2 separate regions of the Homo sapiens genome follow, and region 1 is linked to region 2. Evidence: fine-mapped expression QTL. Tissue or cell type: whole blood. Region 2 holds a variant in brackets; the other region holds the start of a gene. All regions are shown on one strand. Distances are between the middles of the regions.

What was found. PIP is the estimated chance that this variant, and not a neighbour inherited with it, causes the effect.
Region 1: it holds the start of GOLM1, and the variant in region 2 is fine-mapped to the expression of GOLM1 in whole blood (INTERVAL, PIP 0.94).

Annotation. Positions count from the first base shown.
Region 1 is chr9:86,095,660-86,103,767 of GRCh38, reverse strand. GOLM1 (golgi membrane protein 1) reads left to right here and starts at 4,210. Exons shown (of 10, transcript NM_016548.4): 1 at 4,210-4,357. RefSeq lists silencers at 3,999-4,318, 4,329-4,428, 4,589-4,638 and an enhancer at 4,269-4,769.
Region 2 is chr9:86,223,285-86,231,392 of GRCh38, reverse strand. C9orf153 (chromosome 9 open reading frame 153) reads left to right here. Exons shown (of 4, transcript NM_001276366.4): 2 at 1,764-1,855; 3 at 3,363-3,538. The coding sequence starts at 1,790. Among named protein-coding and RNA genes, the nearest start is that of C9orf153, 32 kb to the left of the region's middle. The variant C/T (reference allele first, on the strand shown) is at 3,587.

The sequences.
Region 1 (8,108 bases), 130 kb after region 2:
GAAATAATGGATACTGAAAGCAAACACAGCAAGATATTTACAGCAAATACTTTTTAGTCTGTTCAATTCAATTTATTTCATGCAGTTTACCCTTGAACAATCTACGGGTTAGGGACACCCCCATCTCTGCACAGTTGGAAATCTGCATTTAACTTTGATTCCCCCAAAACTTAACTACTGATAGCCTACTGTTGACTGGTAGCCTTACTGATAACATAAACAGTTAACACATATTTTGCATGTTATATGTATTATAAACTGTATTCTTACAATAAGGTAAGCTAGAGAAAAGAAGGCAGCATTTAAGAGCAATGAACTAGGATATCTAGCAGAAGAAATGTCTAAGCAGTAAAGCATTCAAGGTGTTGCATGGATTGTTTTGGCTGCTTACAGTAAAATTAGAGAAGAAATAAATGATTAAAAGATGAAATTTATAACTAAAAAGGAAGCAGAAAAAAATTTTGAAAATTTTCAGCCTGGCCAAGAGTGCAAAGGCATGTTTGGGAGAGCCTCATAAAGATGTAAGTCCTTGTAGGGATATAGTCCAGTGGACCCCTTGCTAAAGAGATTACCATGGCTAGAAAGGAGTCAGGTGCTATTCATCAAGACAAGAAAGACCCCAATGGCATTTCAGAGATTTTTTAGGTTGCCCCTTCCATCACAGGCCCAGAGCAGGACCTTGAAGGCAAGGTTTCCAGAGACGTGGCCACAGGACCTCAGCATTTGCTACCAGGCACTGCCTCAAGTATCTGCTCCCCGCTTTCCAGCACAGCACTCCACAGCTGTTGCAGCTGTGTGGCTCAAGTGGGCCCAGCTGTGGCTTAGGCTACTGTTCTAGAGGGTGTAAGTGGTGGGCCTTGGCGGCATCCATGTGGTGCTAATTCTGAAGGTACACAGAGTTCATGAGCTATGGGGCTATGGCAGCCTCCACCTAGATTCCAAAGAATGTACTGGACAGCCTGGGGATACAGGCAGAAACTTGCCGTAGGGGCAGAACTGCCACAGAGATTCCCTACCAGGGAAATGCCTAGTGGAGCCATGGAAGCAAAGCCATAGCAGGGAACCACCACTAGGACAATGACCAATGGAACTGTGGGGTTGGGGCTGTCCCAGAGCCCCCAGAACTGTAGAGCTACCAGTGTGCAACACAGCTTGGAAGAGCTTTAGACATGAGACTACAAACCATGAGGTTCTGTGACATGACTACACCCAGCCAAGTTATACAGATGGGGCAGCCCAAGACCTTGGGGGTCCAACTCCCACCCTAGTATGCTTAGAAGGTGAGATATAGTCAAGAAAGGCTATTCTGAGGCTTTGGGATTTAATGTTATTTTTTCCCTGTTGGGTTTTGGACTTACTTGGGACCAGTTACCCCTTTATCTTACATATTTCTCCCTTTGGGAATGTGAATACCTATACTGTGCCTGTGCCACCATTGTATTTTGGAAGTAAATAATTTGTTTTAATTTCACAGGCTCATTGCTGGAGGAATTTGTCTTAGGATGAATTGTGCCTTGAATCTTGCTCATATCTGATTTAGATGAGACTCTGGACTTTCTAGTTGGTGCTAGAGTGAAGACCTTAGGGCTGCCAGGTGCAGTGGCTCATGACTGTAGTCCCACCACTCTCGAAGGCTGAGGCAGGTGGATTGCTTGAGCCCAGGAGTTTGAGACCAGCCTGGGCCACATGTCAAAACCTCATCTCTACAAAAAATACCAAAAAAATTAGCTGAGCATGATGGCATACACCTGTAGTCCCAGTTACTCAGGAGGCTGAGGTGGGAGAATCACCTGAGCCCAGGAGGTTGAGGCTGTAGTGAGCCATGATCACACCACTGCACTTCTGCCGGGGGGACAGAGTGAAACCCTGTCTCAAAATAAATAAATAAATAAATAAATATTAAAGCCTTTAGGGCTGTTGGGATGGAATAAATGTATTTTGTATGTGAGAAGGATATGAACTGGGGGTGGTGGGGGGCATAGAAGCAGAATGCTATGGTTTGAATGTGTGCTCCATAAAGCACGTGTTGAAAACTGAATCTCCAGTGCAACAGTGTTGGGAGGTGGGGCCCAAAGGGAGGTGTTTAGGTCATAAAGGCTCCACTCTTATAAATAAATTAATGCCAATTATAGAGGGTTTGAGGCTGCAAGTTCAATTTCACATACACCCTCTTGCCCTTCTGCCTTCCACCACAGGCTGATGCAGCAAGAAGGCCCTTGCAAGATGCCAGCACCTTGATATTAGACTTCCTAGCCTTCAGAACTATGAGAAATACATTTCTTTTCTTTATAAATTACTGAGTCTGTGGAATTGTGTTATAGCAACACAAAATGGACTAAGACATTAAGGAAAGGATGCTTAACAGGCAAAACATGGATGCTTCCTTCAACCAACCACTGTAGCCCCTTGCACATTGTTTAATCAAAACCCATCCAATTGAATTTTCAGGGCCAGCAACTGATTAGCTTTTTTATAAGGAATGTAAATTATGTATATAGATATATATAAAACTGCATCTTAAAATTTTCAACTTTTGTCATAAAGAATCTAACGAAAAGGACTAATTCATCTTCAATTAAAATATAGCTCATTCAGCCAGCTGCCTTAGCACCTAGACATATGGACCTGTTCCATAAAGTGTTTAAGAATCACTGAGTGAGTCGCTAATTAGTTGCTGATAAATGAGAGACTAATGGAGACCCTCCTTAGAGCCAAATGATATAGAAGTTACAGTCCACCAGTCTAAGAATGTAAACTATACTAAGAGAGCTAAAATGGGCAAGAAAGGGAATTTCCTGTACCTGTCCCCGATTATGGTTATTTAAGCTCACTAGAAGATCAAAGTGACACAACTTAAGTCTGCAAAACCAGGGCTGACATCTGATACAGCCTCAGCTTCTGAATGCTTTGGTCTGACCCTACAACAGTTTAACAGTTGCAGATAACAAAAATATCATTTTGGAATATAGTAGAACATTCCTCTAAAGGGGTCATGTATGGTCAGCTTCTAATTCAGCTAAGAGGTTTTAGCTGGTAAAGATACGTTTCCTGCAGTTAAGAAGCTCCATGCTCAGGTAGCAATAGGGTATCTTGATCACCTTTTTTAAGGTGACTCTTTGTTCTGGTTAAAATCAATTTCAGCTGTGAGCATTCCTTTAGGTGTTCATGTATTTACTTGTTTTTTTATTGTGATTTGAGAGAGGCGCAGAGGAAGGAGTTTCCTTTCCCAGACACCAGAGCTAGGAAGACATGAAGACATGATTCTAGGAAAACTGTTCTCAATCTTGGCCGTATACTGTATTAGGATTATCTGGGAAGCTCAAAACAAACAAAAAATATCAAGTTCACTTTGAACTCTGGAAGTGGGACCCTGGTTCCTAAATGCTCTAAAAGCTCCCCAAATAATTCTAATGGATGGCAGGTGCTGCCAGAGTTAAGAACCATTGCTTTAGAATTTTCTAGCATGGTTTCCCTGTAGGTCACTAGTTTTGTGGCATTCTCTCCGGGAGGTACGGCCTCATAGGGCTTCTCAAACATCAGTGCGCCTGAGCGTCATCTGAGGCGCTGTTTCAAATGCAGCTGCCCGGGCTATAAGATCACACCCGAAGGCGTCCGGGAATCTTCACTTTTTCCGTTGCTAGCAGTGGAAGGGTCACAGACCAAACACTAAGGCCTGAGCGGTGACAACCGAGGCGAGATGATGGTCAACAGGGAATGCCTCGTGGGAGAAAAAAGACAATTTTGTGAGTATAAGCCCCCTAAAAACCTGTTTTTCGTTCGCTTCCTTCTCTGGGCAGTTTTGACCCGACGACTTTTATAAAGAAGGTAACGTGAGTGTGGCGCTGGGTGCGGTTGGCTGTTCGGGAACATTCCCTCGGGGCGGAACGTGGGATGGGGGCTCCCCCCAGGTACCCTTTCCCCACAGCCGCTTCCCCGCTCCGCGTCGCTGCTCAGGCGCCAGCTCCCGCGTCGGAAGGGGCGATGGGGTGGCCCGGGGGAAGGGGCAACGCCCAGCGGCGAGAACTGGGCGCACGCTGGCGTTCCTGCTCCCGCCGAGGGGCGGCCACCGGCCGGGGCGCGCGCACCGTGGGGCCGGGAGTCCGCGCGGCCCCGGCAGCCCCTGCCTCGCTTCTCCGCGCTCGCGGCGCCGCCTCCTCCCTTCGCGCCGCCGGCGCTGCTCGGGGGCGGGGCCTTGCCGCTGCGGAGGCCGGAGACGCGGCGGCGCTGGACGCGGAGGCGCTGGGCGCACGGCGCGGAGCCGGCCGGAGCTCGAGGCCGGCGGCGGCGGGAGAGCGACCCGGGCGGCCTCGTAGCGGGGCCCCGGATCCCCGAGTGGCGGCCGGAGCCTCGAAAAGAGGTGAGTGGGCGGCGCGCGGCCCCAGGCTGCCCGAACCGCGGTCCATCGCTTCCTCCCTCCTTTGCCCAGGGCCCGTACCCCGCGCGCCGAGACCTCGCGTCGGTCCCCGGAGCCTCCCCGCGGCTTGCGCCGGGGCTGCAACCTTCGCTGGCTGCGCTCGGGGCTGGCTCCGCACCTTCCTGCACCGAGTAGCCCGCGGCTGCCTGGGCCCCTCGGCTCGCTCCCCAAGACCGGGCGCGCGGCCCCCTTGCCCTGCGATGAGGGGCCTCGCGAGGATTCCCTGCCCTGCAGTCTCAGGCGATGCGGGGCCTGTCTTTTTGTTCTGAGCTTTGTCACGCGCGTCGGCATCCAAAGTCAAAAGCGTGCACCCCCTAAGTCGCACTAGTTCCAGTTCTGCAGCGTGATTTGCACCAGGCGCGGGAGGCTGGCCGAGCCGCGAGTCTCTCGGCTCCCGCCGCCTCTTCCTCCCCTCCAGCCCCAGGCGCGCTCCGGCCGCCCTGGGGTCCACGTTGCCGCTGGGCCTCGTGGCTGGTGACCCCGGAGCTTGGGCTCCGGGTCCTCCCGCCGCGCGTCCAGAGCGCGGCTGCATCCCGTTCTCGTGGATGCTCGGGGTTTTCTCGCATACCTGTGTTTCCACCTTTGCCAACGTGGAGGATCCACACAACTTTGCCCTGCTGTAAAAATCATATCCCATTTAATATTTTTAATGATTTGCTTTTAAGAAACAAAATGTGAAGAATAACAATTTTGATGAAATTTTTTAGCAAAATTTAAGAATTATTATATTTGAAATACCATGATGATGCTGGACAATTTCAGATGTCCCATAGCCAGATTTGCAAAACTAAACTTGTGTGACTTTCACGATTTTGAGGTTTTCTTTGTCTGATTTGGGGTCCCTAGGCCCTACATTATGCACATTATTGAGGAACATTTCTAGGGCTGGATTAGTGAGATACACAATAACCTGATGAAGTATTTAGCAGCGCTTGAGTGGCTTTGTTTAGCTCATGGCCATCAGGTTGGCTCAAATCTCAGTTTTAGTATTTCTGAATTTTGGAGGGCATGGGACAATCTCTTGTCAGTTTTTGTGGGTCTCCAAAGGCATCCTAGCTTCTTCCAGTTGTGTTATAAAAGATGAAGCTAAGCTCATTACTTTCTTTCTTAATAGAAACTAGTAACTTGCTAAGACTTACTGTTTTTAGGCCAGACACTCAATTCTTAAGGTGTCAGTGAACAAAAATTGAATTGTTAGGATGGTTAAAGAAAAGAGGTTAGCTTTTAAGATACATTTTGTTCTCCTATGGAGAGGTTATCCAATTTTCACATTTTTTTTTAAAGTTGGTTTTACAGGAAAACGAAAGAAATGAGAGGAAAGTAGTGCTGAGGGTGGGGCCAGGAAATTGTGGTGACTTGGATATTAAGGGCCAGGGATACCATCTGCTTTCTAATGGCTGGTTTAGGTCCAGTTATTGATGGGAAATGAAAAGATTTTGCATTTACATTCCACCCGCTGTTGTTGTTGTTGTTGAGGGCTGGGCAGAAACAACAGTTAGGACAGCTGACCATAGCAGGCCCAGGGCTACCCGGGTTTATATATATATGGCCACCTTCCCCAGGAAGGAGGGAACTGCTACCCTTATCCTGTGAAAGTGCGAGCTGGCTTTCTGCATTGGAAGTACAGAGGGCAGAACCTGGGGAAAATGCGTCTGCGTGGATCAGTAGGAAGGGTGGAGCATCACTTTAGGCAGGTGTGCTGAGAAGAAGACAGGTGTCAGTTGATGGGCACTATTGGTGGGAGGGAGCTTGAAGGCAGCGTGGTCCCTGAGGTCCAGCCGCCTTTCTCAAAGGACCTGGGGTGGCCATTGGGGGCGGGGGAGCGGTGTTCTGTGCCTTTGGCTTAAATTCTGCAGCATTATTGTTATTACTTGTTTTTTCTTGAAATAAAAAAAAAATAAGTTGCCCTATGAAAAAAGATACATTTCTTTTTCAGTGACGTAATGTGAGAAATAACATTTGTAATTGGGATTTTTTAAAAGCACTTCTGTTTTTGTAAAACAAAACAATTTTTTAAACATTTGTAAAAAAGTAGAAGGAACAGAAGGAATGGTGCTACTATGCTTTTGCTCTCACCTTAGAAAAGGGCGAATGATATTTCACTTGCTCCCCAAAAACTGTTCTTAAAGATCATGGTGGTTTTCTGGACTTCTCACGTTATTGATGAAGTTACATTAAAAGAGAGACTTGTCTCCAAATTTATGAAGTGTTTCTTAAATTTCCAGAGAGTCTTTCCTTTCTTTCACACAGATATTTCTCACACTTTCAGGAAAAAAAAAAAAAAAAGTCCATGCCTTCTCAGATTTTTACATTTTGGTCTTATTTTCCTTTAAAACCCTTAAGCACTTTATTAGTAGGACTTCCCTTGCTAAGATTTTGAAGATTAGTGCCTGACAGAAAAAAGTACATATATAAATACTATATAATATGATTATAGTTGTTTATATTGTAATTTGCTATCGTTTCCCAACTTTTTTGATGTTTCTTAGTAATAAAAAAACTTTTTTAACACTCTTCTGTATGTGCATTTGTTGCTTATTTATAAACTACATGTATTTGCTGTTATGGTTATATTGTGTCTCAAGGCCCAATATACACATAGGGCTGGATTTGTTAACAACATTAGAGGTAGAAACCCTGTTTTAAATACTCTTTCTCTTAATTTTAAGTATTTTGGGCCTGTGTCTTGTCAGATCTGATTACATCAGCATAGTTTCTACTTCATGAGGTATCTCATGCAAGGCTGACTCAGTATAGAGCTTTGCCAGCCACGGTATTTTGCTGTCCTGTGTTTGCATTTATTAGTGGAATAAACAGACCTCTGACTTGGTAGGTCTGGGGTCGGCCACAAAATTTGCATTTCTGACAAATTCCAAGGTAATGCTGATGCTGCTAATATGGGGACCACACTTTAAGGACCATTGAACTACAGCAGGAGTTGGCAACCTGTTTCTGAAAAGGACCAGATACTATTTTAGATGTTGCAGACCCTGTGGTCCCTGTCACAACTACTCAGCTCTGCTGTTATAGCCCAGTAGCCACAGATAATATGTAAATGAATGGGCATGGTTCTGTTCCAGTAAAACTTTATTTATGGATACAGAAGTTTTAGTTTCATGTAATTTTCATGTGTCATGAGATATCCTTTTATTTCCAAACCAAAAAAAAAAAAAAAACCTATCGAGCAGTTATCATGTGGTGTGTACTTTATTGCCGCTGTAATTTTTAATCCTCACAACAAAAGGTTTTACATATTTAAAGTCTCATATCACTGCATCCTAGAACATGGGGTCAGTAGTAAGCCTACTTCAATGGACTTTTACAAGGATTGAATAAGATACAGAGAGGGGGATTATACAACTCACCAAAATTCATGCAAATAGTAAGAAAGCTAGGATTAAAATTCCTTTTGGCCTGACCCACATCAGTACTCTTTTCCTAAGCCACACTGCCTCAACAGTACCGCTAAGGAAGCACTCAAAATAACAGGTAGCTAAACTGACATCTAATATCACTTCATGGCATCCAAATTCTCCAAGGAGCACTGAACCAGGAGTCACCTGCCAGGTCAGTCTCCATCCCTCTATCAGTAGGTCTGTGTGCGAGTTGGGGAACACTGCAAGTTTCAGCTGGTTCTCGGTTCTTCTTGGTTTTCAGCCCTGCTGGGCTCTTTTGGGTCTTTCCCACGCGCGCA
Region 2 (8,108 bases):
ATTTTCCATCCATATATTCTCTTACCTACCAATAAGGGTTTCACTGGAATAAATTAAGCCAAGAATGTGAAGTTTTATGGGGTTTATCTGTATTTATTGCTATATAACAATTCATGCAAAGCTTAGTGGTTTGAAACAATAATAATTTACTCTTTGTCAAAATTTTAGAGTTGCCTTGCTCAGCTGGGAGGTAGTTCTTCTCCATCTGGGATTGGCTGAGGTTGCTTATGCTGCTGTAGTTATCTGGAGGCTCGTCTGGGGCTGGGTGAACCAAGATGGCTTTATCTACATGTCTAGTGGTCAATACTGGCTGCTGAGTCTGCATGGTCTCTCCAGATAGGCAGCCAGATCTCTCTTTACATGGTGGCTCAGGCTCCCAAGAATGTGTAGGAAAGCCGCAAAGCCTCTTAAGGTCTGGGTTCTGGCACTCACACTATGTCACTGACACAATGCCACAAGCTATTGATCAAAGCCAAGCATAGGCCAGCCCAGTAAAATGTGGGAGAGAACTTAACTGCCACTTATCAATGAGATGAATTGTGGAGATTCCATGGCCATTTTTAACGTCTTGCAGAAAAATTAAACACAATTCCATCTGCAAAATGCCTTATAGTGTATCTGACACAAAGTAAATTATTTTCAAAATATTTATTGTTTTTATTATTATCATTACATATGAGCCTTTTCCTCCTGAATAAAAAACACTTTTTGAGTGTAAGGAGGTGGGTGAGTTTTTCTTTAGATGAACTGAAAGTTGATCAGAATATGTAAGACAAGAAAATAAAACTATCCAGCTGGGCGTGGTGGCCCACACCTGTAATCCCAGCATTTTGGGAGGCCGAGGTGGGTGGATCACCTGAGGTCAGGAGTTCAAGACCAGCCTGACCAACACGGTGAAACCCTGTCTCTACTAAAAATACAAAATCAGCCAGGTGTGGTGGCACATGCCTGTAATCCCAGCTACTTGGGAGGCTAAGGCAGGAGAATTGCTTGAACCCGGGATGCAGAGGTTGCAGTGAGCCAAGATCGTGCCATTGCACTCCAGCATGGGCAACAAGAGTGAAACTTCATCTCAAAAAAATAAATACATAAAATAAAAAATAAAACCATCCATATAGGATTTGTTACACTAGTATTAAAACTAAATACACATGTTGTAGAAGAATTTGGGTATTTCAGTGAAATGCTCAGTTGAAGCATGACAAATTTGGCAGACCTAAACTACGAAAAAGCAAATGAAAAGTTTAAATTGTATTGATATGCTTTGGATTTGTGTCCCCACCCAAATCTCACATCAAATTGTTATCCCCAGTGTTGGAGGTGGGGCCTGGTGGGAGGTGACTGGATCATGGGGGAGGATTTCCCCTTGCTGTTCTCATGATTGTGAGTTCTCATGAGACCCGGTTGTTTAAAAGTGTATAGCACTTCCCCCTTTGCTCTTTCTTTCTCCTGTCCTGGCCATGTAAGACGTGCCCTGCTTCTCCTTTGCCTTCCCCCAATAATTGTAAGTTTCCTGAGGCCTCCCCAACCATGCTTCCTGGACTGTGTGCAGAACCATGAGCCAATTAAACCTATTTTCTTATAAATTACCCAGTTTCAGATATTTCTTTAGAGCAATTCAAGAATGGACTAATACAGGTATAAAATTTTCAAAATGTCCCACTCACAAATTTATTAAGATTTAAGAAGTCTCACCTCCCCCTTTGTATTCTATCTGATTTTTAATCTTTGATTTTTGTCTTTTCTCATATTGCTTTTTTTAGGAATTAGAGAATAAAATCCCAGCACGATGTTCCTCACTGGAGACACCAGTCCAGCTGAGGACAATAGAGAAGCCACCCTTCCTCAATGTTCAGTATGTACTTAACATTGTACAACGAGGTGTACACAGGGAGCTTTACATTCAAGAATCATAAACATTCAAACTATTGAACGCACAGTGACACACTTGGGAGCCATGGGAAACTCCAAAATGTCACTTTAATGACTTAACATTCTTAGTCACAGAGAAGTGTAGCTCTTCCCAGGGCAGGTGGGCAGAAGTGCTGAGCTGTTTTCGTGATAGTGTGGTTGTATAATTCGTTATAAAGAGCCATTCACCAATGTTAGCACACTTTCTTTTTTTTTTTTTTCTTTAGGAAAAGATGTATTAACCAGAGAACAATCCAGCCCAATTTCCAGGCTAAAGATTTCATGATATCGGTCCAAACATCACACTATTTAACTCCCCAAAAAAACACTGGAAAAAAAGACTATCAGTGCTAACACATTTACTTATAAAATCTCCACCTATGTACCAATTTCTAAAACAGTTACAAGACAGATACACAATTTGGGGTAAACTAACAAAACAGACTATTATAAAATATTAAAAGCAATCCTCCTGGTCCACGGGCCCTTGTCGCCTCTTACTTGAAGTTGGCGTAACTGAGAATGCATCCATATATTCCTGCACCACCTTGTAGCAGAGCTCATACTGGTTCCAGGGTCTGGACCACTTGTGTAGCCTCTGTAGCCGCAGACTCTTGACATTCTGGAAGACGTCCAAAGTCCCTTCTACTTTCCCACGCGTTAGCTCACTTTCTATTTGTTGCCCTTGCAATAAAATTGACTAGGATTGAAGGAAAACTCTGCATTGGGCTAAAGGACCTAAATTTCAGCCCTAACCTGAGACTATGGCCTCTTTGGCCTTCCAGTGTAATGGCCTAAGAAACCTCTTAGAAAGGATAGGATTTGTAGGAAGTATAGGATTTTAGATGGGGACAGGTCCTCTCAGGGATCTGTTACTGTTTTTTTCTGCCAATAACTATTCCCAGATACTCAATGTATGTCACCATTTGCTCTGGTCACATATCCCAGTGAGCAATGACTATTGTCGCCTCCTCAGCACTGGATTCCTGAACATTATGGGCTCTTTGGACAACAGGATGAAGCTCTGATATCTAAGTGATCTGGCTCGCTTTCTTCCTTCAAAGACATAATAGCATTGTTCAAAACAAGCAAAGGCCACAGTCTCCCACAGCTATTTCTCTCCGTGGTCACTCATAGAATTTCAGAGTTGGAAAGATCTTCAAGACTTCTTAGTTCAATTCTAACTGCCTAATTTTATAACAAGCATTTATAAGACGTGTCTAAATAATACATCTTTAAGGGAGTGAATCGGAGATTTGACCTCTCTGTTCTCTATTCCACATTGCCACAATTGACTTGCTTTAGTTAGGCAAAGATATCTTCCAAAGATAAAAATGCTTTTGTCTTTATGGTTATTTATTGTCCTATGGTTTTTTCTAGGGTTTGTAGGTCTGCCAGAATATTACATTTTTGTCAGTCTCGTGACTTACCACTTTTTTTTTTGTCCACAGCTTCCAGAATTATATGCATGTATTGAGAATTTTAATAAGGAGAGCAAGAAATCAAATCTTCTAAAAATGCATGGTATTTCACTTAACGAAGCACAGGAAGTACTTGCTAGAAACCTGAATGTCATGTCATTCACCAGGGGCGCTGATGTGAGAGGAGATCTCCAACCTGTTATCAGGTGCACAGTGGTTAAAAAAGAGAAGCAAGCATCCATGATTGAGCTCCT[C/T]TACCGCAGCTTACTGGCAAGCTCACTCTCTCCCATGGAGAGGCTCTCCAGGTCCCAGCAGAGGCTGTCACAGTGTGGGATCTCCCCTCCCAAGCACACTTTTCCTTATGAAATTCTCACCGATCACTCGAATGCCTTGGCCCAAGTTACCGTACAGAAGGTTCCAAGCCCCAAAATCTTATGCAGCTTAGGCATTTCCAGTGCCACCCCAGAAAAGTTCATTTCTGAAGATAAACTTTGTAGATCCTTCTTAGTTGACCCAGGTAATTTAAACAGATGAGGCCATGTGGGAGAAAAGGAATGGAAATCTCATTGCAAATTTACTAGAGCAGAAATGGTCCAATACTGACCTACAGCAATTTTGTAGTTCTGAGGTTCATGGCTGCTATTAATATGTTTGCTTTATACAGTGTCAATAAAATGAACAAGCCTGGAAAACATAGAAAGACCCCATCTCCAAAAATAAATAAATAAATAAATAAATAAATAAAAATTAGCTGAGCTTGGTGGCATGTGCCTGTAATCTCGGCTACCCGAGAGGTTTAGGTGGGAGGATCACTTGAGCACATGTGTTTGAGGTGGCAGTGAACTATGATCACACCACTGCATTTCAGCCTTGGCAACAGAGCAAGACCCTGTCTCTAAAAAATGAATAAGTAAAAATAAAAATAAAATGCAGAACAGAGAACCCAGAATTCCAGGATCAAGTCTCAGATTCACTCTTAAAAAGATATATTGTTGGGCCAGGCATGGTGGCTCATGCCTGTAATCCCAGCACTTTGGGAGACCGAGGCGGGCAGATCACCTGAGGTCAGGAGTTCGGGACCAGCCTGGCCAACATGGTGAAACATGGTCTCTACTAAAAATACAAAAAATTAGCTGGGCGTGGTGGTGGGTGCCTATAATCCCAGCTACTTGGGAGGCTGAGGCAGGAGAATTGCCTGAACCCAGGAGGTGGAGATTGCAGTGAGCAGAGATCGCACCATTGTGCTCAAGCCTGGGCCACGAGGACAAAACTCTGTCTCAAAAAACAAACAAACAAACAAACAAACAAAAAACCATGAAACTTATGATGCTGAATTTTAATGAGAAGGGAGTGTCTTACACTTTAAGTCTCCATCTTATATAATTTGAGAGAGGTAATATTTTGTCATTTTTTAATAGATTACATCAATTTGTGATAACCCTCTGAAGCAGTTTCTTGATTCAAGATAAGACCATTTTCACAGCAAATATTTTAACACCACCATTTTTATATTAAAAGTAGTGGGACGGGGCAATATGGCAAAACCCCGACTCTACAAAAAAATTTTAAAAATTAGCCAGGTGTGGTAGCATGCACCGGTAGTCCCAGCTACTCGGGAGGCTGAGGTGAGAGGATAACTTGAACCCAGGAGGCAGAGGTTGCAGTGAGTCAAGATTGTGCCACTGCACTCCAGCCTGGGGAACAGAGCAAAACTCTGTCTCAAAGAAGAAAAAAAAAAGTAATGGGAGAGGCAGAAGGAGCAAATTTAAAGGAATAGATTGATTACTGTGAGTATATTTGGTCCAAAGAGTTGGAAGAGCTTTTGCTGTAACTCCCTACATTGACATCTTAACAGAGCCAAATGCAGGCTTCGAAATCCTTTCATAGAGTCCTACGTTGCCTAAGTAGCAGTGCAATTAAAGCAATGATAGGACTGGCCTAGATAATTCGCAAAGTACACAAGTAAAGCCTGGGACCAGAGAGGAAAAATCATGAAAAGTGTTGAGACTCAGTAAGAAGAACTAATCAAAAACCTACTGAAGAAGGGTTTTGGATGTTTGATAAGGTCTTGAACATTTATGACTTTCACATGTATACGGGCCAAGTTTTTCTTTCTTCCTAATGCATGAATTACCTGCTGGTTACCTAACTTCTGGAGGTCTCTGATGTGGTCTCACAAACTGTGTTGGAGTCTCTTCTCTGCCTCCATATCTTCATTTCCTGAGATCCCAGAGGTAAATTTCTGGTACATGTCATGTCTATTCAAGAAATATGCTGGCTGGGCATGGTGGCTCACGCCTATAATCCCAGCACTTTGGCAGGCCAAGGCGGGTGGATCACCTGAGGTCAGGAGTTCAAGACCAGCCTGGACAACATGGTGAAACCCTGTCTGGACAACATGGTGAAACCCCGTCTCTACTAAAAATACAAAAAAATTAGCTGGGCGTTGCGGCGGGCACCTGTAATCCCAGCTACTTGGGAGGCTGAGGCAGGAGAATCGCTTGAACCCAGGAGGCAGAGGTTGTGGTGAGCCAAGATCGCGCCACTACACTCCAGCCTGGGCAACAGAGTGAGACTCCGTCTCAAAAAAGAAAGAAAGAAAGAGAGAAAGAGAGGAAGGAAGGAAGGAAGGAAGGAAGGAAGGAAGGAGAGAGAGAGAGAGAAAGAAAGAAACGAAAGAAAGAAGGAAAGAAAGAAGGAAGGAAGGAAGGAAGGAAAGAAAGAAAGGAAAGAAAGAAAGAAAAAGAAAGTGCATGGAGTCAGGCAGGAATCTAAGTGAAGGGTATCCAGTAATCCCTTAGGGGTAATTAGTATTGCAACAATTCATCTTCTACTCTCCTACTCAGTCCAGAAGAACTTTAGGATCCTGGTATTCCAAAGTATACTAAAGAACATATTCCTACTGGCACCAAGCACCGGGGGAGGAAAAGAGAGTGGGTGTTGCCGTTTTGCTCTTCTATCGTATGAGCTCCTCTTGTTCAGGCTAAATCCCATAGAATCATATAGCTTAGGAATCAAAAATAACAGAAAACCAAATAGTGGTTATTTTTCTTACATAATTAGAAGTCTAGGGGTACGCAGACAAGGGCCGGAACAATGCTTTTTTTTTTTTTTTTTTTTGAGACGGAGTCTCGCTCTGTTGCCCAGGCTGGAGTGCAGTGGCACAATCTTGGCTCACTGCTACCTCTGCCTCCCAGGTTCAAGCAATTCTCCTGCCTCAGCCTCTCCCATGTAGCTGGGACTACAGGTGCCCACCACCAAGCCCAGCTAATTTTTTTTTTTTTTTTTTGTATTTTTAGTAGAGACGGGGTTTTACCGTATTAGCCAGGATAGTCTCAATCTCCTGACCTCGTGATCCGCCTGCCTCAGCCTCCCAGTGCTTTTTATGTCTCTATTTATTTAATGAACACATTGTCATTGTACATATATATGGAGTACAATATATGTTTCAATAGTGTTATATAGTGATCGAATCTGTGTATTTATCCTGACCTCATGCACTTACCATTTCTTTGTGGTGATGACTTTGAAAAGCCTTCCTTCTAGCTATTTTGTAAGATACCATATCTTATTGTTAACTATCCTCACCTTACTGTGCAATAGAACACCAGAATTTATTCCTCTTATCTAACTGTAACTTTGTTCTCAATTATTTATTTACTTCAATTTTAATTTTTTTTTTTTGAGACACTGTCACCCAGGTTGGAGTGCAGTGGCACAATCTCAGCTCACTGCAGCCTCAACCTTCTGGGCTCAAGCAATCCTCCTATCTCAGCCTCTCAAGTAGCTGGGACCTCAGGTGCATGCCACCACAACTGGCTAATTTTTGTATTTTTTGTAGAGATGGGGTTTCATCATATTGCCCAGGCTGGTCTTGAACTTCTGAGCTCAAGTGATCTGCCTGCCTTGGCCTCCCAAAGTGCTGGGATTACAGGCGTGAGCCACTGGTCCTGGCCCATTTTACATTTTTTTGAGATGGTATCTTGCTATGTTGCCCAGGTTGGCCTCAAACTCCTGAGCTCAAGGAATCTTTCTCCTTCAGCCTCCCCAGTAGCTGGGACTACAGGTGCATGCCACTATGCAGGGCTTCTAATTATAACTCTGAACCCATTGACTTATCTCTCTCCATCCTCCCCTCCCACTCCCTACTCTGTCTCTGGTGACCGTGATTCCACTCTCTGTGGAGCGATGCTTTCAAATGTCTCCAAGGACCTGGGCTCTGCCATTTTTTTGTGTGTAGCTTTTGTTTTCATGTCCAAAAGACATCTTCACCCTCGGAGGCTGTGGCCACATTCCAGTCAGGAAAAGGTGGGATAGGATGAAGAGCCACATTGACACTTCTGTCCTCTTTTAATACGGAAGCAACGATTTTCCAGAACACCTCTCCTTAAGTGATTTCTTTCTACATCTTCTTGGCCAGAATTGTGTCCAATCATCACCCCTTCCTGTAGGGAAGGCTGGTGAATAAGAGTTCTTAGCTCCCCCCTCTATAGCAGAGGAAGGCAGAAGAGGATTGCAATGCGTGTGGAGTAAGCCAACCTAAAGTGTCTGTCAGAGATCATGACGTGAAGCTTCTTTTTTTATTATTTATTTTTGACAGAGTCTTGCTCTGTCACCCAGGCTGGAGTGCAGCAGCACGATCTCGGCTCACTGCAACCTCCGCCTCCCAGGTTCAAGTGATTCTCCTGCATCAGCCTCCGGAGTAGCTGTGATGACAGGTGCCCGCCACCAAGCCCAGCTAATTTTTTGTATTTTTGGTAGGACCAGGTTTCTCCC